Homo sapiens: one gene and its partners. The protein of the gene in region 1 purifies or fractionates together with the protein of each later gene. This does not show direct contact. Each region holds a gene or a part of one and is shown on either strand. Other genes may lie near its edges.

Region 1 (4,402 bases):
GACCCCGAGAACCTCATCACGGGCATCGAGGTGATCGACGAAGGCTGGTGGCGTGGCTATGGGCCGGATGGCCATTTTGGCATGTTCCCTGCCAACTACGTGGAGCTCATTGAGTGAGGCTGAGGGCACATCTTGCCCTTCCCCTCTCAGACATGGCTTCCTTATTGCTGGAAGAGGAGGCCTGGGAGTTGACATTCAGCACTCTTCCAGGAATAGGACCCCCAGTGAGGATGAGGCCTCAGGGCTCCCTCCGGCTTGGCAGACTCAGCCTGTCACCCCAAATGCAGCAATGGCCTGGTGATTCCCACACATCCTTCCTGCATCCCCCGACCCTCCCAGACAGCTTGGCTCTTGCCCCTGACAGGATACTGAGCCAAGCCCTGCCTGTGGCCAAGCCCTGAGTGGCCACTGCCAAGCTGCGGGGAAGGGTCCTGAGCAGGGGCATCTGGGAGGCTCTGGCTGCCTTCTGCATTTATTTGCCTTTTTTCTTTTTCTCTTGCTTCTAAGGGGTGGTGGCCACCACTGTTTAGAATGACCCTTGGGAACAGTGAACGTAGAGAATTGTTTTTAGCAGAGTTTGTGACCAAAGTCAGAGTGGATCATGGTGGTTTGGCAGCAGGGAATTTGTCTTGTTGGAGCCTGCTCTGTGCTCCCCACTCCATTTCTCTGTCCCTCTGCCTGGGCTATGGGAAGTGGGGATGCAGATGGCCAAGCTCCCACCCTGGGTATTCAAAAACGGCAGACACAACATGTTCCTCCACGCGGCTCACTCGATGCCTGCAGGCCCCAGTGTGTGCCTCAACTGATTCTGACTTCAGGAAAAGTAACACAGAGTGGCCTTGGCCTGTTGTCTTCCCCTATTTTCTGTCCCAGCTCATCCGTGTCTCTGAAGAACAAATATGCTTTTGGACCACGAATTCCCAGTTTGGTCTACACAGGCTCGCAGCTCTCACCTGTCCTGCTGTAGCCTGAATGCTCCCATGTGGGAATAGCACCCCACCACCTGCCCAGTGTCTGCCTCTGCTCCGTGTCTGGGGTGAGCACCCTCACCCTGAGACTGTGGCTGATGATGATCAGCCACCAGGAAGAGGCTAAATGTTAAGATGGGACTGAAGTTGGAGCCTTCCTGCGTTCCAGTTCCTCTAGGAGAGGCCAAGGGCTGCCCTGCTCCCAGCTTCAGGGAGCCTCTGCCTACATGGGATGGCCCACTGTGTGGCGTCAGGTACCTGGCACCCACTGAGCATCCGGGGAATTAGGTCCCTCCTGTGCCCCAGAGCTGCTAGGCAGACTGCTAGGCGGTTGACTCAAGGTGTTACCTGCTAGTGCCTGGGGTGAAGGCTGCATGGAGCCCAACCTTGCTCCTGGCCTTCCTGTGCTCAGGCCTCTCCCCTTTTCGCCAGGGCTTCCTGGTGCCTCTCCCATGAAGAGGGAACTTCCCCTCCACTCCCATGGAAGACCCAGGTTTGGGCTGTTGCCAGCTTTGAGGCCCCCTGTGGGCTTGCCTGTCCCAACCCAAGAGGCAGGGCTCAAAGTGCCACCCGGGGGTTGCAAGGACAGCAGAGGACCACCTGCCCTCTGCAGGAAGCTGTCCAGGAAGCCGTGTCCTGGGCTGTGGTCCTTGCTCCCCATGGGGAGAGCTGGGTCACTTGGCCTCTTCTAACTGGCCCCAAGCACGCCAATTCTGGAGCATGGTTACTAAGTGGCTCTGAAGCTTCAGGGTCACCACAGGCTTGTCCTGACTGCAAACTCATGGAGTGGTTGCAGCCCTGGCTCAGTGTCCTGATGACTAGGTGTGGGTACTAGGCTCCTGCCCCTGGTGACACACGTATGGAGTGGGGGAGGGTGGGTGGCTGCACCCCTGGTTCTGGAGTCCCCACAGCTGATGGCGGTGTGAGCCTGGCATGCACGGCTGCGCTGGACTCCAGGCTGTTGGGGGAGGTGCCTTTATTGCCCAAGCCCACCCCTCACTTGGCCTTGCCCTGGGCAGCCACAGCCTCCATGGCCTTCCGCACCGTTTCCTCATCACCCAGGAACTGCATGGGCTTGGTGGGCTTCAGCTCCTTGTTCAGCTCATACACAATGGGGATCCCCGTGGGCAGGTTCAGCTCCATGATCGCCTGGTCTGACATCCCTATGCCGGAAGGAATAGGTGTCCTTAGCCCCTCTGTCCCCAGCCTGTTTACACAGCAGACACTATGTGACCTTTATGGTCCACAGAGCCAGTTCCCCTGGCACCAATTCCTTCCCAGCCCTGAGAACGAGGCCACAGAAATGTTGCCAAAGGTCAAGGAGTAACTGAGTTAGACCAAGCAGCCTACAGAAATAGCCCAGTGGTGAAAAAAATGGGGACTTCAGCCCCACCCAAGTGGCTGTGATCTGTGGTGGTGCTGTCCATAGTTCCCTCAGCCCAGTGTGACTCCAGCCAGACTGAAGTTGAGGGTCAGGAAGGGACACTCACCCTTTGTTTTTTTTTTTTCTTTTCTTTTTCTTTTTCTTTTTTTTGAGATGGAGTTTTACTCCTCTTGCCCAGGCTGGAGTGCAGTGGCACGATCTTGGCTCACTGCAACCTCCATCTCCTGGGTTGAAGTGATTCTGCCTCAGCCTCCCAAGTAGCTGGGATTACAGGTGAGCGCCACCACACCCGGCTAATTTTGTATTTTTAGTAGAAACGGGTTTTACCATGTTGGTCAGGCTGGTCTCAAACTCCTGACCTCAGGTGATCTGCCTGCCTCAGCCTCCCAAAGTGCTGGGATTACAGGAGTGAGCCACCGTGCCCAGCACCCTTTGGTTTCTAAAGTGCTCTAAATTCTAGACATCCTGAACAGAGGAGCAAGTGCGGAATGGAGCTGGAGGAGGGACAGGGAGGCCGAGCCTGGTCGAAACCTGACCCTGCCTGCCTCCTGCAGCCCCTGAGCTGGGAATAGCAGCTCGACCTTTGATGTTCGCGCCACTCCACCCCTGCTCCGTGCAGGAGGGTTTAAGAAAATGTTCTCTGGGGAGTCAGAGTGAAATCCCTCATATTCACCACCAAAAGTGCGTCCCCTTTCCCCAAACCAGGCTGTGGGAGGGTCATGGGGCTGCATGAAGTCTCCGGAAGGGAGAGGAGGCAGGTGGTCCTTCCCTCTGCCTGGCCCCAGTGCCAGGTGCCAGGTGTCCGTGTTTGGAGCGGGCAGGCTTGGGGCTGGCTGGGTCTCCGGGGCCTGCCGGTCTGGGTGCTCTGGCCAACTGCCCAACGGCCCTAGGAGCAGGAGGTCTGGGGCACACCCTTCTAGCCTTTCCAGGACTCAACAAGCTTTAAGGTCATTCAGATGCTAATTTAGACTGCCCTTGTGTCAGAATACTAAGGTGGGAGGCGGAGCGGAGGTGCCAGTCACTCTGGGCGAGGCCTTACTGCGCCCATGCATCCCGGGCCCATTTGTCAGCCCTTGCTCTTCAGTGGGAGCCCAGCTGCAAGCCCAGAGTCTGGCCACTCCATAGTCCTGCACCCCTCTTTTGATTGGTCTTTCCTTTGCCCAGAGAGGGGCTCCAGAGGGAGATAGGTGGTGAAGCTCATGCAGGGATTCTGAGGACCTGATGGGGGAGGGCCCTGCGAGGGGTCCAAGCCTACATCAAGAGGAATTCAGTACCAGGGGGAGCTCCCCACCACCCCGGAAAAGGGAGAGGCCCAGAGATGGAGGTGGCTTGTCCAGGGCCCCACAGTAAGTTGGGATTTGGAGCCAGATGCTCTAAGCCCAGCCCTTCCGTTTCCTAGCTGGGTGTCCCTTGGCAGATGCCACCTTTGGAGCCTGCCCCACCTCGGGACACAGCGAGCTTCGAGTGCAGTCAGCCCCTGTGGAGTGTGTCCCAGTTACACAGAAATGGGGAAAATTTCACAAAACTAAAAAATGGCTTCTCAGCCCTCCTTTTTCAGTGAATGATGTGGAGCCCCACGCCTAGAAAGCCTGGTCCATGGGCGAGAGACTTTGCTGAGATGAGAAGCCAGCTGGGGCTGCTGCCCACCCACCCTGCCCAGGCTCCTGAAGGTGGCCTCACCTTCCAGGTGCTTGACAATGCCCCGCAGGCTGTTCCCGTGGGCTGCAATGAGCACTCGCTTGCCGGCCTTGATCTGGGGAACAATCTCCTCGTTCCAGAAGGGCAGGGCCCGGGCAATGGTGTCCTTGAGGCTCTCGCAGGTGGGGAGTTCCCCGGGCTTCAGGCCTGCGTACCGACGCTCCTGGGGGACACAGGCACGCTGCTTTCCCTCCCAAGCCAGTGGGCCCCCACCCGACTCCCCACTCTGCAGCTTCCCAGAGGCCTTCCCAGCAAAGGCAGCCCACCTTGCTAATGGAGTTGTAGTAGGGGTGCTTCTCGTCCATCGGGGGCGGCGGGATGTCGAAGGAGCGCCTCCAGATCTTCACCTGCT
Region 2 (4,402 bases), on another chromosome or scaffold:
GGAAAGTTAGGGATTCTTCCTTCTAATCATTCCCTATCTCTGTTAGCTTCTTTAAATATGTTTTGCCCTACAAAGCCTCCGTTCTTAAAAATCATTAATTTAGCAAGTATTTACTGAGTCATATCTTTTTTTAATTTATTGAGTTTCATCTTCTGTATACTAGGCACTATGCTAAAGCTCTGGTGTAGTAATCCATCTACTTAATTGTCTGTTGTAGCCTTTGCTCAAAATATTTTTTCTTTTGACCTAAGAAATCAGTTTACTTTCTGGTTAAGAAGGGAGCATTTACTTTTCCCTAACTAAATCTATCAGATGTTAATTTTTAAAAATTAATTCCAACAGGTTGTACATATAGCTAGTAAGCCCCTTGCTATGGAATAGGGACTATATCTATAAAGCTAGTGTTCAGCTACTGAGGGTTCTTCATTTTTAGCTATATGAGCACAATTTAAGTTACTAAGACTCATTAACTATGAACTTTTGGTTATTTCTTTAATAGTATTGCATAGTGGATACTTTCATCTTGGGAGGTTAACAAGATGGGGCAGAGAGTCAAAATAGAGGGAATAAATAATGGGGAAGTAACGAGCTTCTTGTTTGCTTGAGGAACTCTGTTTCAACCCAAGAGAATCTGTTCAGAGCCTGTTTTGGTCCTGAGGGAACATTTGTTGTGGTTTACAGCAGAGGTCTTTACCTTCATTCAGGAGCACATTAGCTCTGACTTGCATGCTCTATCAAAATTTGTATTCTTACTACTTTCCAAAATAGACTACATTTTTCTTTTTTTTTTGGAGACTGAGTTTTGCTTTTGTCACCTAGGCTGGAGTGCAATGGTGCGATCTCGGCTCACTGCAACCCCCGCCTCCTGGGTTCAAGCAATTCTCATGCCTCAGCCTCCCAAGTAGCTGGGATTACAGGCACCCACCACCACGCCTGGCTAATTTTTTGCATTTTTAGTAGAGACAGGGTTTCGCCATGTTGGCCAGGCTGGTCTTGAACTCCTGACCTCAGGTGATCCACCTGCCTCAGCCTCCCAAAGTGCTGGGATTACAGTTGTGAGCCACTGTGCCCGGCCTAAAATAGACTACTTTTTGCAAGGCAAGATTAGTCAGGGCTATATTCAGCTGTACTAGAAGACATCAAGTATGAAAATAGATTAAAATACACCAGTAAAATTTAAGTTCAGGAAAGAAGAAAATACTAGAAGGTGGGTTGGTAGTAAAAATATGGTAGCATAAATGATTCTTTTAAAATGAAAGGTATAATTATCCTTTTATCATTTTGGTTCTGAATTTCCTAGACATTCTACCCTGTAGGAAAGACTGTTCTCCTTACATAGCCCTAACCTAGTTTTGTTTTCTCAGCCGTGTTACTTTTACCAATTCAGAAAGTGAGTTTGGTTAGGGATTAGTTTATGGTCAGCTCTAGCTATCAACAGAAAAGTGAGTGTGAGTAACAGTTGGTAGAATTAAAATCATAGATCCTTACCCCCACATTTATAACAGTAATGTATTATTCATTCAAACTATAACGCAAATACCTAGAAACCTCAAATAATTACAGTTTATGTTATTTTTTTTCTTTCCTGAGAAACAGGATAATAAGAGTTATACAAATAGAGACTTCAAGTGGTGGGACAGGTGACCATCATTAAGAGGGCCAGGACCTGTATGTTTTTAATCCAGACTGCTGCACACCTGTAACATACAGCTAGCAAGCAGTGAAATTGGTTTCTAACATGGAATAAGCACTATCCAGATGCAGCATCTCTAAAAATACTCACTGTAACTATACTTAAAACAGTGATGATGGTGTTATCCAAAGGGATTTTGAAACTGTTCTTTTGACCAGTTCTCAAAATCACTTTCTGTGTTATACTAGAAGACATCAGGTATGAAAATAGATTAAAATACACCAGTAAAATTTAAGTTCAGGAAAGAAGAAAATCCTAGAAGGTGGGTTGATAGTAAAAATATGGTAGCATATTACTTTGCCAGGTGAGTCTTTTGAACCAATAACTATCATTTGATTTTATCCTTTGATAAGACTTGGCTATACTGAAGAATTTGTATTAGTAGTATGCTAAATTATGGGAAAATATAACTTCTTGTATTCATTCTCATACATCTTTTATCTCTCCCATTTACTTGAAAGCAGTTGTTTGTGATTATTATGTAGTTTAGTGACAGTGAACACTTAGTTAACACGTATACCAGGAATTGTTCTCAGTGCTTTACAAATGTTAACTTGTTTAAACCTAGGCAACTCTGCCTCTCCATTTTATAAATGAAAAAAATGGAAGCACAAAGAGTTGAAGTATTAATAGTTTGCCCAAGGTTTCACAGCCATTTAGTGGTAGAGCTGGGATTTGAACTCTTGTCTCTGGAACAGGTGCTCTTAAGCATGGTTTTCCTTCTTTCCTCACCTACTTCATATGGGGAATAAGAAGGAGGGTAGGACAAAACCCAGAATTACAAAGAGCAAAAGCTCTCACATAATCCCACACCTAGAGGTCAGGATTGCCTATGTTTGGACATTATTATATCCTTGCTACCTCTCCTTTCTTGACTCGCCTCCTCACATAAATCATGTGTTTATATGACTGGAATCAAATCTGAAAGACCTGTGAAGTTTCCTCTTTCCATGTCAAAGCAGAGTAGCTATGAGTATTGTATTATCGTAAATTTTTTTTCCTTGATAGATGTTGGGTTTGTTTCCCAGTTTTTGTGAAATTATAAAGAGAGGACTGTGGTTAACATCCATGTGTACATGCATCTGTATACACTTACCAATTCTTAAGGATGTTTCTGGAAGTGGCACTTCTGGTGCACAAAGCACACCTATTTATATATTTTAGTAGGTAGCAATAAAAAATTGTAAAGTTCACACTTAGCTCATAGGTGAATAAAACCTTAATTTGCATTTTTGTCAGGTTAAAAGTGTTTTCATTTTTGTGTCTCCTGTCTTCTGTGAATTGCTTCTTTTGTTCATTTAAAATGGGATGATCTTATTCTTACAGATGTAATAAGCCTTTATATTTTAGGCTGTTAACTGTAATATTACAAATGTTTTCCTACCTCATCTTTCTTCAAATGTTATTTAGATCTTAAGATAATTTTAAAAATTATAGTATGAACTATTCATGGTGATGACTAATTGTAGGTCCTCTGTTTAAAAAAAGCAGTTATTTCTTATATTGTACTTAATATCTTAGAAAAACCATAAATAAGTAATTGAAACAAGTTTTGTGGTTAGTCTTCTCTTTTCTCTGAGTATTTCAAATATTTAATGGGTGTAGTCTTAAGCTGTCGTTCCTTTTTTAAAAAATATGCAAAGTTATTCTGTGTGAGAGGGTTTTCAGATAAGATTAATGGTGAAACAATCTTGTACAAAGTTAGAATTAAGCTTATCATTTTTTGATATAGAATTACCTACATTTTTTTTTAGTTAACTGTTTTTTACATGTTTTAGGTATGTCCCGCCAGAACAAGCCAAAGTCGTGGCATCAGTTCATGCATCTATTTCAGGGTCCTCTGCCAGTAGCACAAGCAGCACACCTGAGGTCAAACCACTGAAATCTCTTTTAGGGGATTCTGCACCAACACTGCACTTAAATAAGGGCACACCTAGTCAGGTGAGTAGTCTTTGAATCTTTGTAGGGAATTCGACTTAAAGAGGGCTTGAGTATCAAGAATTTGAGAATTGTTTAAGACAGCAGCATAATCTTGTATGCCAGTAGCATTATGTTCCAATGGTTTGTTATACATTAAGAAATTGTTGGTTAAGTGGTTGAAATGTATATATACTTGTTCTTTTTGCTATTGCTAATATGAGTTTCTTTGACTTCTCTGCAACTTTGTAAAGGTGAGTTATACAGGAATGTTGCTATAGCTATATATATGTGTGTGTGTGTATACATGTATATATCATGTGTTATACAATTTGTAAAACATGAATCTATGGTGACCATCAGAGTTAGAATGTATAGTCTCTTTGATACACTTTTCTAGGAAGGGATTTCTTTAGTAGTAGAGTTTTCCCACATGTGTGATTGTGAAGCATGTTGATCATTGAAACACAAGGGACTTTGCATTATACCTTATTCTTAAAAATGAACAAAATGGAATATTTTCATAAGTTGCTACCTAAAGTTTGTCTTCTACACTTTATTATAGTTGATGGGGCTGTGACAGATCTGTTACTGTGTGGCATTGCAGCCTCTATCCTATACAAGAATGGTTCAGAGGCGTAGTACTGTGGATTAAATCCTGCCCTTTTTGATGACACATACTAAGACATTTAGATAAATTTCTCTGTTTTCACAAAAGATTGAGTGAAAAATGAGAAAGGTTAACTCAGCATACTGTAACTCTTCGTATGTATAAGTGTGTTTTAAGTTTGC
Region 3 (4,402 bases), on another chromosome or scaffold:
TTTTTAACAATATTAATTCTCTCAATTTATGAACATGGGATATCTTTCCATTTATTTGTGTAATCTTCAGTTTTTTTAATCACTGCTTTATAGTTTTCAGCATACTGATCGTTCCTCTCCTTGTTAAATTTATTCCTAAGTAGTTTATTCTTTTTCATTCTATTCTAAATAGAATTGTTTTCTTAATTTTTTTTTGGATAGTTCATTGTTAGTGTATAGAAGCACAATTGATTTTTGTATGTTGATTTTGTATCTTGTAATTTTGCTGAATTTATTCTAATGGTTTTCTGGTGGAGTCTTTAGGATTTTCTATATATAAGATCATGTCATCTGCAAAAAGAGACAATTTTACGTATTTTTTATTTGGATACCTTTTATTTCTTTCACTTTCCTAATTCACACTTTGAGCATGTTTAAAAGGTATTTCATAAAAAATGTATATGAGGGCCGGGCGCAGTGGCTCATGCCTGTAATCCCAGCACTCTGGGAGGCTGAGGCGGGTGGATCACCTGAGGTCAGGAGTTTGAGACCAGCCTGACCAACATGGTGAAACCCTGTGTCTGCTAAAATACAAAATTAGCCGGGCATGGTGGCAGGCACCTGTAATCCCAGCTACTTGGGAGGCTGAGGCAGGAGAGTCTCTTGCACCTGGGAGGCAGAGGTTGCAGTGACCTGAGATTGCACCATTGCACTCCAGCCTGGGCAATAAGAATAAAACTCCGTCTCAAAAAAAAAGTATATGAGGAATATATTCTTATAGTGCTTTGTGTGAAAAAATAAAATGGTAATGTATAATAAGACTAGAATATATTGGTATACAAGAAAACTTTAGAAAGTGTTGTTTTGTCTTTCATTGCAAATTAAAGGATACCTCTGACATGAGAGTAGTGAACAAGCGGTACGTGGTAATTTTCCTTTATCCTGCCTTTTGCATTTGGTCAAATCAAACAGAGTCAACAGAGAAGGTAATTGAGGCTCCCTCCACAGCTAACTGTTGGTTATCTAGTTCTTTGTTCCATTGGGGCTACAGATGTCAAATTTTTGGGAAATTTTAGCTGCAAATTCGGCTGTATTTTTCTTATTCATTATGAAAATGCCATGTGCTGCTTTGGGAAGTAATACATGCTTCCCTTTCATTGGAAGCATTTAAGTAGAAGTAGGGTAATAATAATGATTAACATGTACTGACAATTTACTTTGTACTATTTATCTTGGTATCAACTCTTTGAGATGAGAACTATTACTATTTTCTATTAAGATGAGAAACCAAGGCCTAGAGAGGTTAAATAGCTGGGATAAAGTGAAAAACTAATGACTGGCAGAGATGGGATTCAAACCTAAGGAGGTCTGATGTTAGAACATACACGCTAACTATTGTTACACACTACCTGTTCCTTGAGGGATGTGAATGGAGGGATTTGCTGTTTTGCTTGGGAGATTGTAATAGAAAGCCTTCCAAGGCTTTCTAACTCTTAAAAGACTAGGACTTTTTTTTTTTCTTTTCTATTTTTTTGAGGCAAGGTCTTGCTCTGTCATTTAGGCTGGAGTACATTGGCATGATTATGGCTCACTGCAGCCTCAACCTCCCTGGCTCAAGCGATTCTCCCACCTTAGCCTCCTAAGTGGCTGGGACTACAGATGTGCACCCAATGCCTGGCTAGTTATTTTATTTTTTTGTAGAGATAGGGCCTCACTGTGTTGCCCAGGTTGGTGTCAAATTCCTGTTCTCAAGCAACCCTCCTGCCTTCACCTCTCAAAGTGCTGGAATTACACGTGTGAGCCACCATGCTGGAACAGAAGGCTGGAATTTTGAAGTGGTCCATGTTACTTGTCAGGCCTACCTTGGTCCTCCTATTTACTGTTCCTCAACTGGGGCCTTCTTATCTCTGCTTATTAGATTGGCCCTCTACCAAAAGCTATCATTACTTGAAGCCTAGAGCAGTTAGCCTCAAATGTTAGGATACTAACCTTTAAAACACATTAGCATTTAAAAAAATTTAGATTCCTGTGGTAGGTCAGAGTTCTGTTTTACTTTGGGATATAGCGTAGTAATTTTCCCCCTTACCCGCATTGTTCCATGTAGTAGTTATTTAGGCAGCCTTAGCACATCCTGAAACAACATCCAGTCCTCCCTGTTCCAGGTTGCCACCTGTCTTTGGTCTTAGTTGAGGTAATAGGATTTTGCTTTGTTTCCCGGATCCTGTTCTGTGTCTATTAACTGTATTTTACCTTAGCCCTTTCCTGAGGCTCTATTCTTTTTTGTTTTTTGAGACAGGGTCTCACTCCCATTGCCCAGGCTGGAGTGCAGTGGTGCAATCTCAGCTCACCACAGCTTCGACTTCCCAGGCTCAAGCCATCCTCCCACCTCAGCCTCCTAAGCAGCGGGGACTGCAGGCGTATGCCACCATGCCTGGCTAATTTTTTTTTGTAGTTTTAGTTGAGACAGGGTTTTACCATGTTGCTCAGGCTGATCTGGGACTCCCAGGCTCAAGAGACCTACCAACCTTGGCCTCCCAAAGTGCTGATTACAGGCATGAGCCTGAGATTCTATTCTAGTAACATGCTTTGTTCTCTGGTTTCTAGAACTGGTCCTGCCACCATCTTTGCCAGACTCTCTCCCAGGGATCAGGTTGGCAGGCTTATCTGAGTTGTCAGATGGCATGGATTTCCGAGAATCTTCTTGTCTTTCCTTTACTGAGCTGTCTTCATCCATTGAAACTCCTGCCACCCTTATACTCCCTTAGCAGCCCTGCTACCTGTGGTTGTAGTTAAGAATATCTCCTACTCCATATTTCAGGAAGGGGCAGGACATTTTTTTTTTTTTGAGATGGAGTCTCGCTCTGTCACCCAGGCTGGAGTGCAGTGGTGTGATCTTGGCTCACTGCAATCTCTGCCTCCCCGGTTCAAGCGATTCTCCGGCCTCAGCCTCCTGAGCAGCTGGGACTACAGACATGTGCCACCATGCCCAGCTAATTTTGAATTTTTAGTGGAGACAGGGTTTCACCATGTTGGCTAGGATGGTCTCAATCTCTTGACCTTGTGATCCGCCTGCCTCGGCCACCCAAAGTGCTGGGATTACAGGCGTGAGCCACTGTGCCCGGCCAAGAACATTTTAAAATCTACCAATCTACCATTTATCCTGCCTTCTTTCCCTTTGAGGTCTCTTGGCTATATGCCACCTCTGCTCTGGAGGATTTTTGCATTTCTTTCTGGTTTGGGGCTTCTTAGAGCTTCCTTTGTAATTAGGATAGAGATAGGAAGAATGATAGACACAAAAGGTGTTTACCTTTGCTGCTTGCTTTACTTGCTATGTGTGTTTCTGCCTCCTGTGCTTGTGTACTCTGGGGCACTGAGCACACCATAGGTGACATGGTGCTAGATATGTTTAATGAGACAGTATGGTGCTGGTCTCCAGTGATGAGTGACAATGGACAACATTCATTCATTCACCCACCTCTTCCACAAATAGTAATAATTTATTTGTGACAGAATCTCACTTTGTTGCCGAGGCTGGAGTGCAGTGCAGTGGTGTGATCTTGGTTCCCTGCAACCTCTGCGTTTTGGGTTCAAGCGATTCTCCTGCCTCAGGCGCCCAAGTAGCTGGGACAACAGGCATGGGCCACCATGCCCGGCTAATTTTTATGTTTCTGGTAGGGATGGGGCTTCACCATGTTGGTCAGGCTGGTCTTCAACTCCTGACCTCAAGTGATCCTCCCGCCTTGGCCTCCCAGGGTGCTGGGATTACAGGCCACAAATAATTATTGAGCATCTACTGTGTGCTTTCTGGAAGTATATGATTTTTCACTCAAGGATTTTATACTTTAGTGGGCAGGGGTAAAATAGATAAATTCACTGCTGTGAGGTACAGTAATACTTAGATAATAGTGTGTGGAGTGTCTTGGGAGCAGCTGGGAGAGGCATTTAACCCAGCGGGTGGTAAGGAGTACTGGAAGGACAGCTTCCTGAAAAAGGTGATACTGAGCTGAGGCTTGAAGATATATTTTAACCTTAAAAATGAATTCCTCAGGGGGAAGAATGGATGCCTTGAAACTTGCTCTCAAGTTTTTCATGTGTTTCTTTTTGTAACTTAATGTCTCTACTTTGCATATGTCCCTTTGGCCTTTGCAGTCTCTATGTCTGTCATTCTTTGCATAATAATTCATATCAAAGGGGAGAAACAGCTATTTTTTGTCCCTAGAAGTTCTGCTCTTAAGGTTGAAAAGAAAGTTTGAAAAATCATATCATTTAGGTTAGAAGTACTTTGTGTTGTTGGTATCCAAAATTAGGACTCTGAGATTCTTGTGTATTCAGAGAATTTTTAGTAGGAAACAAGGACAAATTTGCATATGAAATGAAAATAGTTATTACATGACAAAATATGTAGATCTGATTTCTAGAAACT
Region 4 (4,402 bases), on another chromosome or scaffold:
GATAAAGCAGTGGATTGAATGATAGGCCTTGGGTTCCAGTCACTGCCTGGTGGTTTTAGGGGTCTGTAAGCTTGAACTTTATTTTACAAAAGCTTTTATTTAGAGTGTACACCCTGAACTCAAGTCCTGATTGTGGGGTATTTAACAGTGATGAAAGAGCCAGGCTGTTCTTAGCCTTTTACCTTAGCAAGACAAACAGTATCCAACTGGTTCTCATTAGCATGAAGGAGGAAACTTGGAGAAGCCATGCACGTTGACAACAATTTTTTTTTTTTTTTTTGAGACGGAGTCTCACTCAGTTGCCTAGGCTGGAGTGCAGTGGTGCGATCTTGGCTCACTCCAACCTCCGCCTCCCAGGTTCAAGTGATTCTCCTGCCTCAGACTCCTGAGTAGCTGGGATTACAGGCGCCCACCACCACACCTGGCTAATTTATGTATTTTTAGTAGAGACGGGGTTTCACCATGTTGGCCAGGCTGGTCTCAAATTCCTAACCTTGAGTGATCCGCCCGCCTCAGCCTCCCAAAGTGCTGGGATTACAGGTGTGAGCCACTGTGCCCGGCTAACAACAAATATTTAAAGGCAGGAAAGTGGCAGTGCTCTTTGGCTCCAGTGAGCAGTCATGGCTCAATAAATAGAAATTTCAGGAGAGCCAATTTCCATTGATTATAAAGACTTAGGTTTGTAGCAACTAGAGCTGCCCTCTGGGAAAAGGGTGATTTTATCATCAACGACTGCTCAAACTGGGTTTGGAGAACAACCCAGTATGGCTTTTACAGAGCAGAGTTGTGCCTTAAGGGGAAGATGCATGGTTTCTAAACCCCTTTAAACTCTGAGATTGCATGGGGGAAGGCAGCTGCAGATCATGCTGCCTGAAAAGAGAGGATCTGATTTCAGGCCCCAGAAATCATGATTTTCCTAGTTCTTAGTTTCCGCATCTCTAATGTGAGTTTTTTCTAAGGTTTCTAGTCTGAGCTTCGAGACTGAGTTTCTGCTCATGCTTACTCACCACTGAGTGTGAGGCTTTTAATGACCTGGGCCAGTGACTGGCTGCAGCCTAGGGTAGCCCCAAACCCACGCCTTCTCCAATTAAGGGACTCTTCCGGACAGAGCTCAGAGCAAAGGGTAGTAGCAGGCTTTGAGCTGCAGGGAGATACTGTCATATCCTAGACTGAAGGAAGTTAAGCTGAGCAGAAAAATGCTCTGAAGAATGACTCAGAAGAGGCTCTTGTGAGGAAGCTTCCTTGGAGTACGCGTGTTTGGATTTGGGGAGGTGAAGGTCGTCCCCATGCCAGGCTGGCCGGGGCTGTTTGTGACATCGTGGAGCTGAGTGTTCAGAGCATGGGCTTCAGGGCAGGTAGTCGTGGGTTCGAATTTTGGTTCTGCAGCTCAGTAGCTGTGTGACCTTAGCCAGTTATTCCACTTCTCTGAGCCTCGGTGTCTCCATTGTTAGTGATGGAGATGGATTTAGTTTGGAACCTTGCCACCTCCCAGGGTGGTTGTGAGGGTCCAGTGAGGTCACATGTGAGAACACCAGACTAAGATGTTAGTGTCAGTTCCAATATTCAGGGCCGTGGGGCAGGGGGAAGGGCGATGAGGAGACACAGAAGTGTGTGGGCAGCAGAGACTGTGGAAGTGTGGAGGCATGGGGAGGCCTGAGGGCTCTGCTTCGAGAGTCAGAGGATGGTGGCCTCCGAGTGAGGACTGGGTTAAGGGAAGGGGTGGGTGTGTCTGGGACTTAGGGAGAATGCTGTTGTGTGGAGGTAGAGTAAAGACAGCAGGAGGGAGAGAAAGGGTGTGCGAGGGCCAGAGGGGACTGTGGAGGGGGTGGGCACACACCCTGTGCGGGGCTGGGGGTGTGAGATGGCTAATGTGGTTGGGGTCAGCGTGGGCAGGGCTGTGGGCATCGTTGTGTGGGTGGGAGGCCCAGAAGTGTCGCCCTCCCCATCCTGAGGGACTGGTTCCTCGCTGGGAGGAGGAGGATGTAGCCAGAACCTCTGGGAAAACAATGAGTAACAGGCACCAGAGGCAGCCAGGTCCAGATGTGCTGCCTACCTAGGACCACAGGCTGTGCTGGCTGGTCCCTCCCCTGCCCTTCCTCAGGCCTTGCCCCTCCACTTTGCCCCTGTGGGTGGAGTGGCACTTTCCCCCACCCTGGAGGCCCAGGGAAGGAAAGCTGCCTTTATGAGCCTGAAGCATCTTGGAGGTCTCCTGGGGCCAGCAATGGTGGGCTCTTTGCCAAAAGTCTCAGGCCTTCCTCCCCCCATCCTGTGCTCTCCTGCCCCAAGAGAGGAGGCTCTGGTGGGCCGGGAGGGCGGGGCACACGCTGCACCTTGCTGACTTGTTGTACAGTAGGTCCTACTCTGCGTGGCTGCACCTGGAAGCACGTTCTTTCAGCTGCACAGGTGTCTTTCCCTTTTGGCCTTTATGAAATGCCTGCTGTGCACACTCCATATATTTGCACAGAGGCACAGGTGGGACGGAAAGAGTGGGGAAAGCAGACACAACCTGCTCGCTTCCTGCTGTGTTGCTTCCTGTCTGGGACCTTCCATTCCTCCTCTGTGAGATGAGAAACAGCCGCCCTTGCCCTAGAGAGTGGGTGAACAAAGCCCTGGGTACCAGGTCTGGAGGCTCAGTGGGTGCTGGGTCCTGGATCCTGCGATGGGGCTGCCTGTTCCAGAAAACCCGCTCCCTGCTCCCACCTCAAAGGTGAGAAAGGGAATCTATTTTTTTAAAAAGTCAAACTTAAGAAAAATTACAAGAATACAATGAACTCCCACATACCCCTCACCTAGATTCACGAATTAGTAACATTTGCCTTATTTACTCTAACTCTAATCTCTATAGTTATTGTCATAATTATTGCTGATTCAGGTAGGAGTAAGCTGCAGACATCACAGTCCTTTTCCCCTAAATATCCCAGCGGGAATTAACTAAGAATAAGGATATTATCATACATAACCAAAGCGTGAGTTCCACCTTTAGAAACTTTTTTTTTTTTTTTTTTTTTGAGATAGGGTCTTGCTCTTGTCACCCAGGCTGGAGTGCAGTGGCGCCATCTCAGCTCACTGCAACCTCCGCCTCCCAGGTTCAAGTGATTCTTCTACCTCAGCCTCCCGAGTAGCTGGGACTACAGGTGCCCACAACCATGCCCGGCTAATTTTTGTATTTTTAGTAGAGACGGGGTTTCACCACGTTGGCCAGGTTTGTCTCAAACTGCTGACCTCTGGTGATCCGCCAGCCTCAACCTCCCAAAGTGCTGGGATTACAGGCGTGAGCCATCACTCCCGGCCTAGAAACTTTCACATTGATGGAATCATGTATTTGTTTCCCAGACCTGCCATAACAAAGTACCACAGACTGGGTGGCTTAAACGACAGAGATTTATTTTCTCACAGTTCTGGAGGCTAGACGTCTCAGATCAAGGTGCCGACAGGTTTGGTTCTTCTGAAGGCCCTTTCCTTGGCCTGCAGATGGCCATCTTCTCACTGTGTCCTGGCTTGGTCTTTCCTCTGTGTGAGTCCGGATTTTCTCATCTCATAAAGATACCAGTAAGATTAGATTAGGGCCTGCCCTAAAGATCTTATTTTAACTTAATTACCTCTTTAAAGACATTATCTTCAAATATGATTACATTCTCAGGTCCTGGTGGTTAGAACTTCAGCATATGAATGGGGGAGAGAGAACAATTCAGTCCATAACAAATACTATGATCTAACAGGCAGTCCACACTCAGGCATGCTGGTTGTCCTGGGGATGTTCTTTGTGGCATCCCCCCACATTGACCCACAATCCAGCTTTGTTATGTCTCCTCAGTGTCTTGCCTGGAACAGTTTCTCAGCCTTGGTGGAGAAAGGGAACCTTCACGTTGCAGGGAAGCAAAGGTGCTCAGCAGGAATGGGGGTTCAGAAGCGCAGGCTGCCCCAGGACAGGGAAGCTGTTGAAGGGTTTGCTCTAGTCCATGAAGTTGCCTTTCCTGGCTTTTTCTTTGATGTCAAAAGCACCAGGAGGTGAGCTTAGATCTCAGGAAGCGCACCAAGAATCCGTGCATGAGTCCCCTGCGGTGTGTCTGACTCCATCACCATGGCGCCTGTTCGTTGCTGGGCTGGTTGGCCTGCAGAGCCCTGAGTGGTCTCATGGAGGGTGCCCTTCTGAGTGACCTTGAGCATGTGACTTCTATTCCTACCAATTTCAGTGTCCTAATGTATAGAACAGCCAGTGACACAAATTATAGTAGTAAACATTTTTTGAGCATTCTTGTCATGCAAATCAATAAAAAATCTGAGCCACCCAGAAAGTCCATGAGGCCCTAAGTCATTCAACTTAGCGTTTACTGTGCATTGGCTCACTTCATCTTCTCAGTAACCCTAGGTGCTGTCATTGTCCCCATTTTATGAATGTGGA
Region 5 (4,402 bases), on another chromosome or scaffold:
TCTTTAAGTCTCAGTTTCTTCACCTGTAAAATGGAGGCAATTACACTTCTCTTATGGAGCTGTAGGAGGATTGGATGTTATCTATGTAAAGCACCCAGCACAGGGCTTGGCTCAAAGCAAGTGCTGGATAGAGGAAAGGTGGTGGTCAGTAGCAGGGGCAATACTGGCAGTGATAGTTGTAATTATTGTTGTCTTTATAGTAATGGTAGTAGTATTAATACATACATTGTTACTTTGTGAGTGGAGTAAAAACTTCAGAGGCCCAGAAGTCGTAACCAGGTCTGTTAAGCTTTGAAGTACCTTTGAGTATTTGGATGTTCATGTTGGTCTCTAAAAGGGAGACCCTTCATGCGCTCTCAGTGCCTTAAAAGTCTTAATATATCTCACTGAGGAAGCCAAGGCTAAACTTTCTACTTGACATTACAGGAGTTTTTCCCAAAGGGATTTTGGAGTCTGAGTTTAGCATACGATAATCATTTGCCACTTATCTCTGTCATTGAATTACTTTATCCCCCCTCTATTTCCACACTTTCCATCACAATCTACTCTCCATAATCAAGTGGCAGTGACATAAACCCTTTTGGGGACCTTTAGTAAGACCTTCGAAACTTGAGTTCACTTCTTTTTTCTTCTTTAGCTCTTTTTTAAAAAAATATTGGGCCAGGTGTGGTGGCTCACACCTGTAATCCCAGCACTTTGGGAGGCCAAAGTGGGCGGATCACAAGGTCAGGAGATCCAGACCATCCTGGTCAACATGGTGAAACCCCGTCTCTACTAAAAATACAAAGATTAGCTGGGCGTGGTGGCATACGCCTGTAATCCCGTCTACTTGGGAGGTTGAGGCAGGAGAATCACTTGAACCAGGGAGTCAGAGGTTGCAGTGAGCCAAGATTGTGCCACCGTACTCCAGCCTGGCAACAGAGCCAGACTCTGTCTAAAAAAAAAAAAAAAAAAAAATCAAATACATATATACTCCCTTTTTCATTAATAGTTTTGCCAGAATGTATGGCTTTTGATTATAAATCTTATTTTTAGGTCAGCATGGTGGCTCATGCCTGTAATCCCAGCACTTTGGGATGCTGAGACAGGAGGATTGCTTGAGCCTAGGAGTTCAAGACAGCCTAGGCAACAAACTCAGACCCTGCTTATCCAAAAAAAAAAAAAAAAAATTAGCCAGGTGTGGTGGCACACACCTGTGGTCTCAGCTACTGGGGAGGCTGAAGTGGGAGGATCATTTGAGCCCAGGAGTTATGATCATGCTACTGCACTCTAGCCTGGGTGACAGAGTGAGACCTTGTCTCTAAAATAATCGTAATAATAAATGAGTACATCTTTTTTGTAAGCTGAGATAGTGAGTTGCTGCTGTAGTATTTGTCCACAATTAAAACAATGTAGTAAACATATTAGATATTGAAATAGTTTCTAATTCCTAATAGTCATTCAAAATACATATCTTACTATGAACATTAAAAATACATATCTGAGCCAGGCATGGTGGCTCACACCTATAATCCCAGCACTTTGGGAGGTGGAGGCAGGTGGATCACTTACTTGAGGCCAGGAGTTTGAGAGCAACCTGGTCAACATAGCGAGATCCCATCTCTTAAAAAAGATACATACACACACATACACACACACACACACACATCTGTCTTAAAGTTTGAGTTCAGCTAAGGGGTCAGTTATGTTTCAGGAATGTCCATGCAGAAGAAAAGTGATTTATGTATTGAAAATCTGTGTCTGGTCAACATGAGAAGATCGTTTGAAGCTTGAATGGTGTGTTCTTCTGTCTACCTTGAAAAACTTGTCCCAAAGTGAGTTTTCAAGATACAGGATGTATGACTGTCTAATGCTTGTGAGGAGCTTAGCAAGAATGACCAGCGAATTGCTTATGAGTCTCATTAGCTCATTTACAGTTGCCTTAAAACATAGCTGCATTGGGCTAACCCAAATGCCTCATCAACATACCTGTACAGATTCAAATATATGAGAAGTCTTCCCTCTAGAGAGTGAGCCCTTGCTTAGTGCTGCCTTTACAGCACTGTGCATCTTCTGGATTGTTCCGTTCAGTGGAAGAGAAGCAATGACCCCTCATAACAGAGACCTAGATTGAGTTGCTAATTATTCAGCCAGTATACAGTATATACTATAGTGTGGTTACTGAGATACTGAATAGTTTAAGAGTTTCTGCCATAATTAGTACCTCACCTACTACTTAAAAAAAAATAAACAACCATAACTTAATTCATGTTTTCAAAAAAAATTTAAAGCTTGAAGGAACCATATTTGTAACAACAAAATGTCACTTAAAATGATGGAGCCTATCAATATATTGTTACCTATGCAAGAACTCCCTTTACAGAGCTTGAAGTAATGCTAGTAATGTGACACATAATATATTTTATTCATGATTTGTCATTTAAATGTGTTCAGAATACTGATGGATTCATAAATATCTCATGAAAGCATACATTTTGACAAAGTACCAGGAGGCCCAAGGACATACAAATGGGGCAGAGAATCAGAATCCATTTGCAGTGTCCCCGACCTCTCTCACTGGCATGTTATAGACAAGTAAAGGTTGCACCCATAGCTAACACACACAAAAAGAAACACAATTAACAAGTACCTTTTGTTTGTTACCTTCTCATAAATGGCAATTAAATGAGTAAAAGTAGGTTGGTGTTAAGCTTGGCAAAAGATACTGTGGGGAAGAAAGTTGGCTGCTGGTTGTGTTTATTGTTTGTGCCATTTCAAGCTAGCAACCCTAACTGAGTCTCAGTCATTAGAATTTAGGTTTATTCCAAAGGTAATATCGACAGCTCAAATATGAGATTTGGCCAACAGTTACATAAAGTCACCATGCAGAGTACACCTCTTAATTTTTTTCAAATTTGTTTATAAGTAGTAGCATAAGCTCATGATAGTCTTTGGATTCGTTTTTTAATCTTATGATTAGGATCAAGGGTCAAAATAATATATGCTGCATATAAGATAAGAAAATAGAGGAAGCATGTGCTTTATAATAACTTCAGACCATGTCTGTGAAAACATTGTTTCCCATCAATATTTGATTGAGAGATGCAGTTTATTCAATATGCACTATGTATCAGACACTGTTCTAAGTGCTTTACAAATATTAACCCACTACAGTTAATTTATAACTTTCCTCAGAGGTAGGCACTATTATTAGTCCCATATTGAGGAAAAATCAGGCACAGAGGGGTATGATTATTTGGTCAAAGTCACAGAGCTCATTAAGAGTGAGGCTGGGATTCCCCAGCCGGTGATCTTGAGTCCTTGTGGTTAATCACTGCAGGTAAATCCCTGCAAGTTAATCACTGTGGTTAATGGTGCTTTCTTTATATTCTTATATGAGTTCATTTAGCCTCTAGATCTCACAAGTAGAAATTAAAATACATATGATAAATTAAGTTTTGGTACTAGACAATTTCTACGTTAAATAGTGGAAAGAAATATGTTAATTAATAGAAATATAAGTTCATTAAAATCTTAGATGAAAAAAGATTTTAAAACAGAAATTCAAAAGTATATATTATAAATGAAAGTATCATGTGTAGATTCTGAGTTTGGGGCTTCTGCCCAAGCTGTGTCAGAAAAAAGCATTACCAAGAGGTGGACCTACTTCGTACCCCTTCTTCTGCCCTGACACAGGCAGGAGAATGCAAGGTCAGAGATAAGTGGTAGATGGGGGGCCCTCTAGTTGCTGCCCATGCTAAAGAGGCATGGCAGAATTTCTCAAGTAGTTGCTTTACCAGTTGCTGCAGAAAGCTGCTCCTGGCTGCTCTAACTTTAGGCCTCTAGAAGCCCTGCTGCTTGAATCCATTGGTTTTACCTCCTGACTTATTCTTGAGGATTCCCTGGCAATGAATACAGGTTCCACCTTACATTGACCTTACACTTCAAGGATTGTAAACCATTGCTGATACTTTATCCCACTTGAGGCTTATAAGGGTTCTGTGAAATAAGCCCATACCCTCATTCTGAGGATAAGGAAACTGAAGTTCATGGAAGGTAATGCAGGTGGAGGAAGCAGGACTAAAACTCAGATTTTCTGATTTTTTCTTAGCTGTTCTTTTGGGTTCTCTTGCATTGTGTACTATACCTTCACTCCTGGCCTGTACCCACCTTTGACAGGAGCCCAACTGACTCATCTGACTTCCTGATGACTATTCCCCTGGAAATCTTCCCTTAGTTTCATAAACTAACAACGATGAGACTGTCTGATCCCTAGATTGAGTGACTAGTTATTCAGCCAGCACCTATAGTCTGGTTATTGACATACTGGATAATTTCTGGGTTTCTACTATAATTAGTACCTCACCTACTACCTAAAAAAAGCCAACAAAAATAAAAATAACTCAATTCATGATTTTTTAAA
Region 6 (4,402 bases), on another chromosome or scaffold:
CACTCTCTCGGGGGCCGTCCTGTGCACTACAGGACATTGAGCAGCATCTGGTGGGTGGCCTCCAGGCCATGGAGAGACACTATCACCCCACCTGCCAGCGCACAAATGCCCCTAGATGTAGAAAGCCCCTTGGTCAGAACCCCTGCTGTACATGAATTCTTCTTCTTCTTTTTTTTTTCATTTAACCTATATAGAGACAAGACTTGCTTTGCTACCCAGGCTAGTCTTGAACTCCTAGCCTCAAGGGATCCTCCCGCCTTGGCCTCTGAAAGTGTTGAGGTTACAGGTGTGATCCACCATGTCCAGCCACAAATTCTTTTTATCCTAATGGCCTGTGAAGTAGGGACCGTTTGCATCCTCATTTGACAGGGGAAGAAACTGAGGTGTGGGCAGAGGGACACGGCCAGGTTTCTGCAGCTCCATAGGGCAGAGCTGGCCAGGACTCCCCCAAATACTGCCGCCTGGGACACAGGCACCAGGTCGGGCACAGGGACGGGACAAAAACCAACATCTGTGGGGCAGTTTCTCCATGCCAGGTGTTGACTCGCTGAATCCTTATGCACACCTGCTGAAGTTGGGCCCACTGTGTCTCCTCCACACGGGAGGGATCGGGCCAGGGGGTCTGGAGAGGACACACAGAGCCAGGATCCCAGCCTGGTGGAGCTCTTCGTATGTGCTGGATGCCTGCCTGCATGTGCTATACTAGCGCCCCAACTGGACTCTTTCCTTTTATTTTCTCTAACAGCTTTATTGAGATGTAATTCATAGGCCATACAATTCATCCTTTTAAAGTGTATAACTTAGTACTCTTGGCCAGGCGTGGTGGCTCACATCTGGAATCCTAACACTTTGGGAGGCCGAGGCGGGAGAATTGCTCGAGCCCAGGAGTTTGAGACCAGCCTGGGCAACATAGGGAAACCCCTGTCTCTACAAAAATTAAAAAATTAGCTGGACGTGGTGGTGCGTGACTGTACCTCCATCTACTCAGGAGACTGAAGTGGTGGGATTGCCTGAGCCTGGGAAGTTGAGGCTGCAGTGAGCCATGATTGCATCTCCAGCCTGCGTGACAGAGCAAGACCTGTCTGAAAACAAACACAAAAACCAGAAAAACAACGTAGTACTTCTTAGTGTATTCAGTGCTGTGCAGCCATCATCACTCTCTAATTTTAGATGTGATCAGACGCGTTCGGGGTGGTATGGCTATCGGCAGTCACTATCTAATTTTGGAACATTTTCTTCTTTTCTTTCTTTTTTTTTTTTTTGAGACAGAGTCTCGCTCTTGTCACCCAGGCTGGAGCGCAATGGCGCGATCTCGGCTCACTACAACCTCCTCCTCCCAGGTTCAAGCAGTTCTGCCTCAGCCTCTCAAGTAGCTGGGATTACAGGCGCCCGCCACCGCGCCCGGCTAATTTTTGTATTTTTAGTAGAGACGGGGTTTCACCCTGTTGGCCAGGCTGGTCTCAACCTCCTGACCTCAGGTGATCCACCCGCCTCAGCCTCCCAAAGTGTTGGGATTACAGGCGTGAGCCACTGCGCCCGGCCAAAATTTCAGAACATCTTCATCCTCTCCCCCAAGCAGAAATTCTGTACCCGTTAAGCAATCACTCGGCGTCCGTCCTCTCCCGCAGCCCCTGCAACATGAATCTACTTACTGCCTCTAAGGATTTCCCTCTCCGGGACATTTGTACAAACGGAATCCCACACCGTGAGGCCTTTTCTGCCTGGCTCCTTTCATATGCTGCAAGGTCCCCGAGTGGTGGCGGGTGGCAGTGCTGTGTTCCTTCCCGCGGCTGAATGTGTCCTGTTGCGTGGGTCCACCGTGCCCTGCCTCTTCCTCCGCCTGTCTGCTGACAGTCCCTGGTTTCCTTGTATCTCTGGGCTCTCGTGCTCCTGTGGACATAGCTGCGCAGGTGTTTTTATGGACATTTGTTTTCCGTTCTCTTGGGTGTATACCTAGCAGTGGAGTTGCTGGGTCATATCGTAACTCTACATTTAATCTGTTCGAGGTTGGCTTTTTTTTTTTTCTTTTTTTGTTTCTTGAGACGGAGTCTCGCTCTGTGGCCCAGGCTGGAGTGCAGTGGCGCAATCTCGGCTCACTGCAACCTCCACCTCCCAGGTTCAAGGGATTCCCCTGCCTCAGCCTCCCAAGTACCTGGGTTTACAGGCACATGCCACCATGCCCAGCTAATTTTTTTTGTACTTTTAGTACAGAGAGACGGGGTTTCACCCTGTTGGCCAGTCTGGTCTCAAACCCCCGACCTCAGGTGAGCACCTCAGCCTCCCTAAGTGCTGGGATTATAGGCATGAGCCACTGTGCCTGGCCTGAGGTTGGCTATTTTTTAATTCCAGCAGCCTATCTGGTCATTGAAATGGGGGCTGTGAGGGGGGTCCAACACCCTCTTTCTCTCCCTCACCCCCATGTATCCTGAGTCCTGGAATCAGTGTTGTGTTCCTGGCAGATGGTGGCCCCAGCCATGCAGAGGCTGGGAGGAGAACAGGGAGGGTTTGGGTAGGAGGAGATTCCGGAAGAAGGAAGCATTCTGATGAGGCAAGGAAAGGGGCACTTGGAAAGTCACAGCCAAAACTAGGGTGACAGGGACAGACAGACATGGGGCAGCTCGGCCACAAAGGGCAGAGAGAAGGACATGGTGTCCCGAGGGCCAGAGCAGGGTAGAGAGGGGCTGGCAGAGTTTTCTTCTAATAGCTTGCATTAAAAAAGAAGTCTTTAGGTCATCTTGGTGGTTCACACCTGGTCCCACCTACCTGGGAGGCTGAGGAGGGAGGATCATCTGAGCCTGGGAGGCAGAGGCTGCAGTCAGCTGAGATCGTGCCACTGCACTCCAGCCTGGGTGACAGAGTGAGACCCTGTCTAAAAAAAAAAAAAGTCATTACATATTTTTAAAAATCTGTGAGACAGTCACATCGTTCACCAGGTACAAAAGAGTACATAGCAAATGGTCCCTGTCCCCAAACCTGGTCCCCATTCCAGAGAAAACCACTGTTATACCTGTTTCTGCTTCCAGAGATTTTAATAAATCTGTAAGAACAAATGTGGGTGTGTGTGGTGTGTGTGTGATGTGTGTGTGTAGTGGGTGTGTGGCGCGTGTGTAGGGTGTGTATGGTGTGTATGTGGGGTGTTTGGCGTGTCGTGTGTTAGTGTAGCGTGTACATGGGTTGTGTGGTGTGTGGTATATATGTGGAGGTGTGTGTGGTGTGTGTGTTGCATGTGTATGTGTGTGGGATGTGTGTGCTGGGGGGATGTATGTATATGTGTGGGGTATGTGGGGTGCATATGAGGTGTGTATGTGTGGTGCGTATGTGTGGTGTGTGGATGTGCATGGCGTGTGTGGGATGTGTGGATGTGGTGTGTGTATACGGGGTGTGTGGTGTGTGCTTATGTGGAGTGTGTCGTGTGTGGTATGTGTGCACACAGACACACGGATTAATCTCGTTTCCTCAGATGTGCACGGCTGGCACAGGCCATCCTGACTGTGGCGCACCTTGACCTGCCTCTGTCCTTTTTTCTTAAGCAACAGTAGCTTATCTTTCCCCTTCCTGCGGGTGAGGAATGCAGCAGTGGCCCCTGCTGAGGAGGGCGGCTTCTGGCTTTGCGTCTTCATGAGGTTGCATGAGGTTGCATGAGGTTGTGGTCAGCCGTCAGCCGGGCCTCGTTCCCTGAAGGTCTCATTGCACTAAGCCCTGTGCGCTGCACCTCATTGATCCCTCACAATCCCCCTCTGAGGAAGGGGTGCTAGAGATGGGCTTCCACCATGGCTCGCCCCGGGGCTAGCAGAGTTTTGCTGGCAGTTGGCAGGAAGCTCGGGCTGCGTGAGCGGCCTCACCACGTGGTGGTCGGCTTCCCCAGCGAAAGTTGTGCACGATGCAGGGCAAGAGCTCTGGGAGCTTGGATGCCATTCTTTTTTTTGCTCGGGGGTAAAATTCACATGAAAATGTTAAAGTATACCATTCAGTGGCATCTGTCCTTTTTTTTGGTGGCTGCAGGGTATGCCATTGTGTGGCTGTCCAGTACCATTACTGGAGTTCCGTGCTGGGAGCCATTTGCAGGGTACGTCCCCTCAGCTCCTGCTGCCCGAGGCGGTGGTGCCACTGCCCTTCCCAGGACAGGAGGGGATGGACTCGCTCGCCCTCTGTGGAGCCACTCCAAAGTGGTTCCTTGTTACAGTCTACCAGAGTGGCACATTTATTACAATCGATGAACCTACATGGACACCTCATTGTCACCCAGAGTCCATAGTTGACACTGGGGCGCACTCTTGATGCTGTATGTACTATGGGTTTGGACAACTGTATCATGACATGGATCCATACTGTAGTATTCTACAGAGGAATCTCGCTGCCCTACAAATCCTCTGTGCTCCCGCTAGTCATCCCACCCCTGAGC
Region 7 (4,402 bases), on another chromosome or scaffold:
AAGACTGCTGCGCTGAAAGGAGACACCCAGGCTCTTCTTCCGAGCTCTGGAGTCTGAGAGCCTCCAGTAGAAACAGCCTCTTGCTGCCCCTCCTGTGTGGGTTGTCATTGTAGTTGTCCTCTTTAGCCACTAGATGGTGACCATCTGGCTTTAAGATGGCACTTCCGGTCTCTTTTGTCTTGTTTGGTTAATACCTTTTCCCTGCCTTCCTTATGGCCATTAAGGGGAGTCTGAGGGGAGTGAGGGGAAATAAACCCACGTGGCCAATCTAGCATTTTTAACTAGAAGTCCCCTTTTGGAAAGAAGGCAACTAACATTTGTTGAGCCGCTGTCCAGGCGAAGCTCTGTGCGGGGTGGGCTGTATCCATCATCTCATTTAATCATCACAGCCACCCTGCAAGGTTGGCACTCTTCTTCCCACTTTAGGGATGAGGACTGTTAGCATCTGAGAGATGAAGTAACTTGTGCAGTGGCTTGTGGCCAGTCAGTGGTGACCGGAATCTGTTCCCTGCTTGGACCCAGTGCAGGCACAGCTCCAGACACATGGCTGACACTCAGTAAATCAGCATCGAATGAATAAAGATGGAAGTGGGGTTTGCTTCATAGCAGCCTTATAGGGTCATTGGAGAGGGTTAAATGAGATAACATAGCATTTGGTGACAGAAGCCAGTAATGTAAACTCCTGAAGAGAAAACGTCTCTCTTCCTCTTAGGTAAATATAGTAGATGACATAGGATTCATTGACTCCTTTAATTCCTCCTTGAACTGCCTCATGTTTTATTTCAACTGATGTCTCCTTTTTCTCTTCCTTCCTCCTCCTGCTGCTTGGAGATTAGCAGGGCACCTAGGGAAAGATGTGACCCCGGAAAGTACTCAGTTTCCCTGCCCTGGGTAAGCCTTGCCTGGGAGTCCATGTGGGAAGCCCAGAGTGCCAGGCCCTCCCCTTTAGCTGCTTATCCTCAGGGAGGGGTGTGGTCTGGTTAGGGTCTGAGAGGAGGCAGGTGGCAGAGCAGAAAGCACATGGGCTTTAGGACTGTAAAGACCCGGCTTTATCTGTCCAAATGCACATTCTGCTATGAAAAAAAAGAAAAAGATAACAGAAGACCTGGGTTTGACTGTAGGTCGCTGCTCTCCCATGTCCTGTAGTGTCACCTTAGACAGTGGTACATCTCCTCTGTGCCTCAGATGCTTCCTCTGTAGAATGAGCATACTAGTATCAACCTCAGATGTGGCTATAAAAGATCAAATGAATAACATGTCAGTTGCCTAATGCCTGATTCCTTTTCCTGCTTTGTGGACTCCTGTAGAAGTCAAGAAGGAATTCTCCTTCTTTGAAGAATATTTCCACTTTTGAGAATCATCAGATTATCTGTCCTAGAGACTAATGGGGGTTGGGATGGGGGAGGAGCAGGGCTTTTTCCCTTAAGGAAAGCCTGGTTATTCCAGTACCTCAGAGGTACTGTTGCTTGTGCCAGGCAGAGGACACAGAAATTAGACTTTTGTCTCAAACTGGGGAACAGACAGAGAGCATTGGTAGGGAGAGGAGGCCTCAGGTCACATGGGAGCATCAGTGTGGGGTGCCAGGGAGGGGAACTCCCAGAGGTTAAAAGACAGGGCTGAGTTCTGGGGGATTTGTTTGCTTTTTTACCCTCAGAGTGCCAAGGAGTACCGACAGCGAAGCCTACTGGAAAAAGAACTGCTTTTCTTCGCTTATGATGTTTTTGGAATTCCCTTTGTGGATCCGGTGAGCTAGGGTACAGGAGCCGGAAGGGAGCGGGGAAAGAGTGAGCAGGAGAGATGAATGGGGAGGAGGGGAACACTGTGCGATTCTGAGAGAAAACTTGCTGGAGGCTGAGCCTAGCCTGGGATCTGTGCAAGGCAGGGATGAGAGACAGATGAAAGGGGAACACTGGGCAGCTAGAAGGGACTTAGATGTGGAAACCTCCCATTTTGTCTCCTGAAAGGAAGAGGGTGATAAGCTGGATTACTCCTGTGGGCCTTATTTTATGCATTGAGACACCTGGAAGATTAAGTAGATCATCTTACCTTTTTCATTTCTTCCTGACCTACTTAGGATTCATGGACTCCAGAAGAAGTGATTCCCAAGAGATTGCAAGAGAAACAGAAGTGAGGACCTTGAAGAAACTGCATGGTTGGATCAGTCTGATGAAGCACTTGAGGCTTCCTGAGCCCAGGCAGATGTGAACTCCTGGCAAGGGGTGGGCAGGTCCAGTTTGGGAAGTCGGGGTGGAGCCCAGGGCTGGCCCTGGAATGCAGTCCTCAGAGCGGCTGTGCTCATAGGTCAGAACGGGAAACAGCCGTACGCATCTCCCAGGAGATTGGGAACCTTATGAAGGAAATCGAGACCCTTGTGGAAGAGAAGACCAAGGAGTCACTGGATGTGAGCAGACTGACCCGGGAAGGTGAGAGGACAGAAATAGGGGCATGTCTGGCTGTTGTCAGGGAGCCAGGCAGGTCACCCCACATTTGCCAGGCAGCGCTCCACCCCAGCATTGCAGAGCTCACCATGAGCCAGCCACCCTTAGGGTGCAAGTTCAGTGGACATCCTTCCTAACTCACCAGCGGGACTTTCAGCTGGAAAGAGCACTGAGAATCAGCCTTTGGCTCAGAAATCAGACTCCAGGATGTAGTGGTGCACACCCGTAATCCCAGCTACTTGGCAGGCTGAGGCAGGAGGATCGCTTGAGCCCAGGAGTTTGAATCCAGCCTGGGCAATATAGCAAGACCTCATCTTTAAAAAAAAAGAAAGAAATGAGACTTCTGTGTCACAGAAACATGAGTGACTAGTGTTGTCCACTTCCATAGGTATTAACTCATCCTGTCTCCCCACTCCCAAACTGTTTTCTCCCGGTTTTCACCATTCGTCCCTTTACTGAGACTCAACGCCTTCAGGCCTCCTTTGGCTCCTCTTCCTCCTGTGCCCGTTTTCTGCAAGCTGCTGGGAAGGCCTACTGATTGTGGCTCTGCTCTGCAGTGCTTCTCAGCTCTCTCCCCAGCCTTTTCCGTTTTTCATTGCCTCAGGCTTCCTTCAGGCCCTGGCACCTCCTATCTGCACCCACCCTTTCCCCGTCTGGCCTGTCCTTGCCCCTGCCCACACAAGGTAGCTAGGCCAGTCTTCCAGACACTGGCCTCTGACCCATCCTCCGTGCCTGCCCCTTAACCGAATGTTCTACTCTTGTCCTGTTTACACCGTCTCTTCACACAGGACTGCACTTTGTTCCGTGAGCCCGCCCACTGCCCACCAGTCTGTGTTTATGCCTGGCTCTCCTAGTACGCTTCCCACCATCCCTGCCCATGAGGGCATCTGAGATATACCCTGCAAAGCCTTTCTTTTTTTTTTTTTTGGAGATGGAGTCTTGCTCTGTTGCCCAGGCTGGAGTGCAGTGGTGCAATCTTGGCTCACTGCAACCTCCACATCCCGGGATCATCAAGGAATTCTCCTGCCTCAGCCTCCCAAGTAGCTGGGATTACAGGCATGTGGCACCATGCCTGGCTAATTTTTTTGTATTTTTAGTAGAGATAGGGTTTCACCATGTTGGCCAGGCTGGTCTCAAACTCCTGACCTTGTGATCCACCCGCCCTGGCCTCCCAAAGTGCTGAGATTATAGGCATAAGCCACTGTGCCCTGCCGTAAAGCCTTTCTTAACCTCCCAGATGATTGGAGTCCCCTCCTTTCTTTTGAACTTCTTAGGGCATTTATGGTCTGTCTTATGCTAGTTATTTGCATAATTGTTAGAGAACAGGTACTGTCTTCTAGGATTCATCTCTCACCCTATCTGGCACAGTTCCTGGTACACACTGAGGCCTCAGTTATCAAGTGGAGTTGAACTGAGTCTCTAGTATTAGTATGTCCCTAGCACAGAGAAACACCATGAGAACTGTAAGAGAGAAATGTTGACCTTTGCCCTATAGTTGCTTAAATTAACAGTGGTTAATTAAACAAGATTAGCGTATGAAAAGAATTTGTCCAGCATTCCTTTGTTTTCAGACCACTTTCACTTTGTTATTTCTCTTGATTCTTATAACTGAGAGGTGAGTCATGCAGATTGCAAGATCCTTATTTTAAATGAATAATGATGATGATACCATGGTAGCCAAACTTTTGAGGACTTACCATATGCCAAATATTGTACTAAGCTTTTAACTTGCCTTCCTTGTTCTTAACATTATACTGGCATCAAACATATAAGGTAGATGCTGTTTGACAGATGAGAACATTTTAATTAATTAAAATTAACCTCAGGGAGGTTAAGTAACTTGCCAAGGTCACACAGCTAATCAATGGAGGATCTAGGAGTCAAAGTCAGTTCTTCCTCGTTCCCGAGCTCATGTTTTAGGATTGTGTTTCTGATGTTTCCTCAAGAGTGTGTCATGGCCCAAA

The links.
Region 2: the proteins of DBNL (region 1) and AGFG1 fractionate together in Homo sapiens (co-fractionation; one large-scale study listed by BioGRID). This does not show direct contact.
Region 3: the proteins of DBNL (region 1) and ERO1A fractionate together in Homo sapiens (co-fractionation; one large-scale study listed by BioGRID). This does not show direct contact.
Region 4: the proteins of DBNL (region 1) and USP20 purify together in Homo sapiens (affinity purification with mass spectrometry; 3 studies listed by BioGRID and IntAct, with this or other methods). This does not show direct contact.
Region 5: the proteins of DBNL (region 1) and CRYBG1 fractionate together in Homo sapiens (co-fractionation; one large-scale study listed by BioGRID). This does not show direct contact.
Region 6: the proteins of DBNL (region 1) and HSPBP1 purify together in Homo sapiens (affinity purification with mass spectrometry; 2 studies listed by BioGRID and IntAct, with this or other methods). This does not show direct contact.
Region 7: the proteins of DBNL (region 1) and P3H1 fractionate together in Homo sapiens (co-fractionation; one large-scale study listed by BioGRID). This does not show direct contact.

The regions. Positions count from the first base shown.
Region 1 is NC_000007.14:44,060,800-44,065,201, forward strand, and holds part of DBNL (drebrin-like protein), read left to right. Parts: coding exon 1-117; 3' UTR 118-1,964; coding exon of another isoform or gene 1,965-2,131; 3' UTR 2,132-4,032; coding exon of another isoform or gene 4,033-4,213; 3' UTR 4,214-4,316; coding exon of another isoform or gene 4,317-4,402. Other genes in the region: PGAM2 (phosphoglycerate mutase 2), read right to left, coding at 1,965-2,131, 4,033-4,213, 4,317-4,402. UniProt on the Homo sapiens protein: Adapter protein that binds F-actin and DNM1, and thereby plays a role in receptor-mediated endocytosis.
Region 2 is NC_000002.12:227,520,292-227,524,693, forward strand, and holds part of AGFG1 (arf-GAP domain and FG repeat-containing protein 1), read left to right. Parts: intron 1-3,471; coding exon 3,472-3,634; intron 3,635-4,402. UniProt on the Homo sapiens protein: Required for vesicle docking or fusion during acrosome biogenesis. May play a role in RNA trafficking or localization.
Region 3 is NC_000014.9:52,685,297-52,689,698, reverse strand, and holds part of ERO1A (ERO1-like protein alpha isoform 2 precursor), read left to right. Parts: intron 1-4,402. UniProt on the Homo sapiens protein: Oxidoreductase involved in disulfide bond formation in the endoplasmic reticulum. Efficiently reoxidizes P4HB/PDI, the enzyme catalyzing protein disulfide formation, in order to allow P4HB to sustain additional rounds of disulfide formation.
Region 4 is NC_000009.12:129,837,780-129,842,181, forward strand, and holds part of USP20 (ubiquitin carboxyl-terminal hydrolase 20), read left to right. Parts: intron 1-4,402.
Region 5 is NC_000006.12:106,366,649-106,371,050, forward strand, and holds part of CRYBG1 (beta/gamma crystallin domain-containing protein 1), read left to right. Parts: intron 1-4,402. UniProt on the Homo sapiens protein: May function as suppressor of malignant melanoma. It may exert its effects through interactions with the cytoskeleton.
Region 6 is NC_000019.10:55,269,699-55,274,100, reverse strand, and holds part of HSPBP1 (hsp70-binding protein 1), read left to right. Parts: intron 1-4,402. UniProt on the Homo sapiens protein: Inhibits HSPA1A chaperone activity by changing the conformation of the ATP-binding domain of HSPA1A and interfering with ATP binding. Interferes with ubiquitination mediated by STUB1 and inhibits chaperone-assisted degradation of immature CFTR.
Region 7 is NC_000001.11:42,752,890-42,757,291, reverse strand, and holds part of P3H1 (prolyl 3-hydroxylase 1 isoform 1 precursor), read left to right. Parts: intron 1-836; coding exon of another isoform or gene 837-891; intron 892-1,654; coding exon 1,655-1,744; intron 1,745-2,074; coding exon 2,075-2,127; coding exon of another isoform or gene 2,128-2,195; intron 2,196-2,301; coding exon 2,302-2,423; intron 2,424-4,402. UniProt on the Homo sapiens protein: Basement membrane-associated chondroitin sulfate proteoglycan (CSPG). Has prolyl 3-hydroxylase activity catalyzing the post-translational formation of 3-hydroxyproline in -Xaa-Pro-Gly- sequences in collagens, especially types IV and V.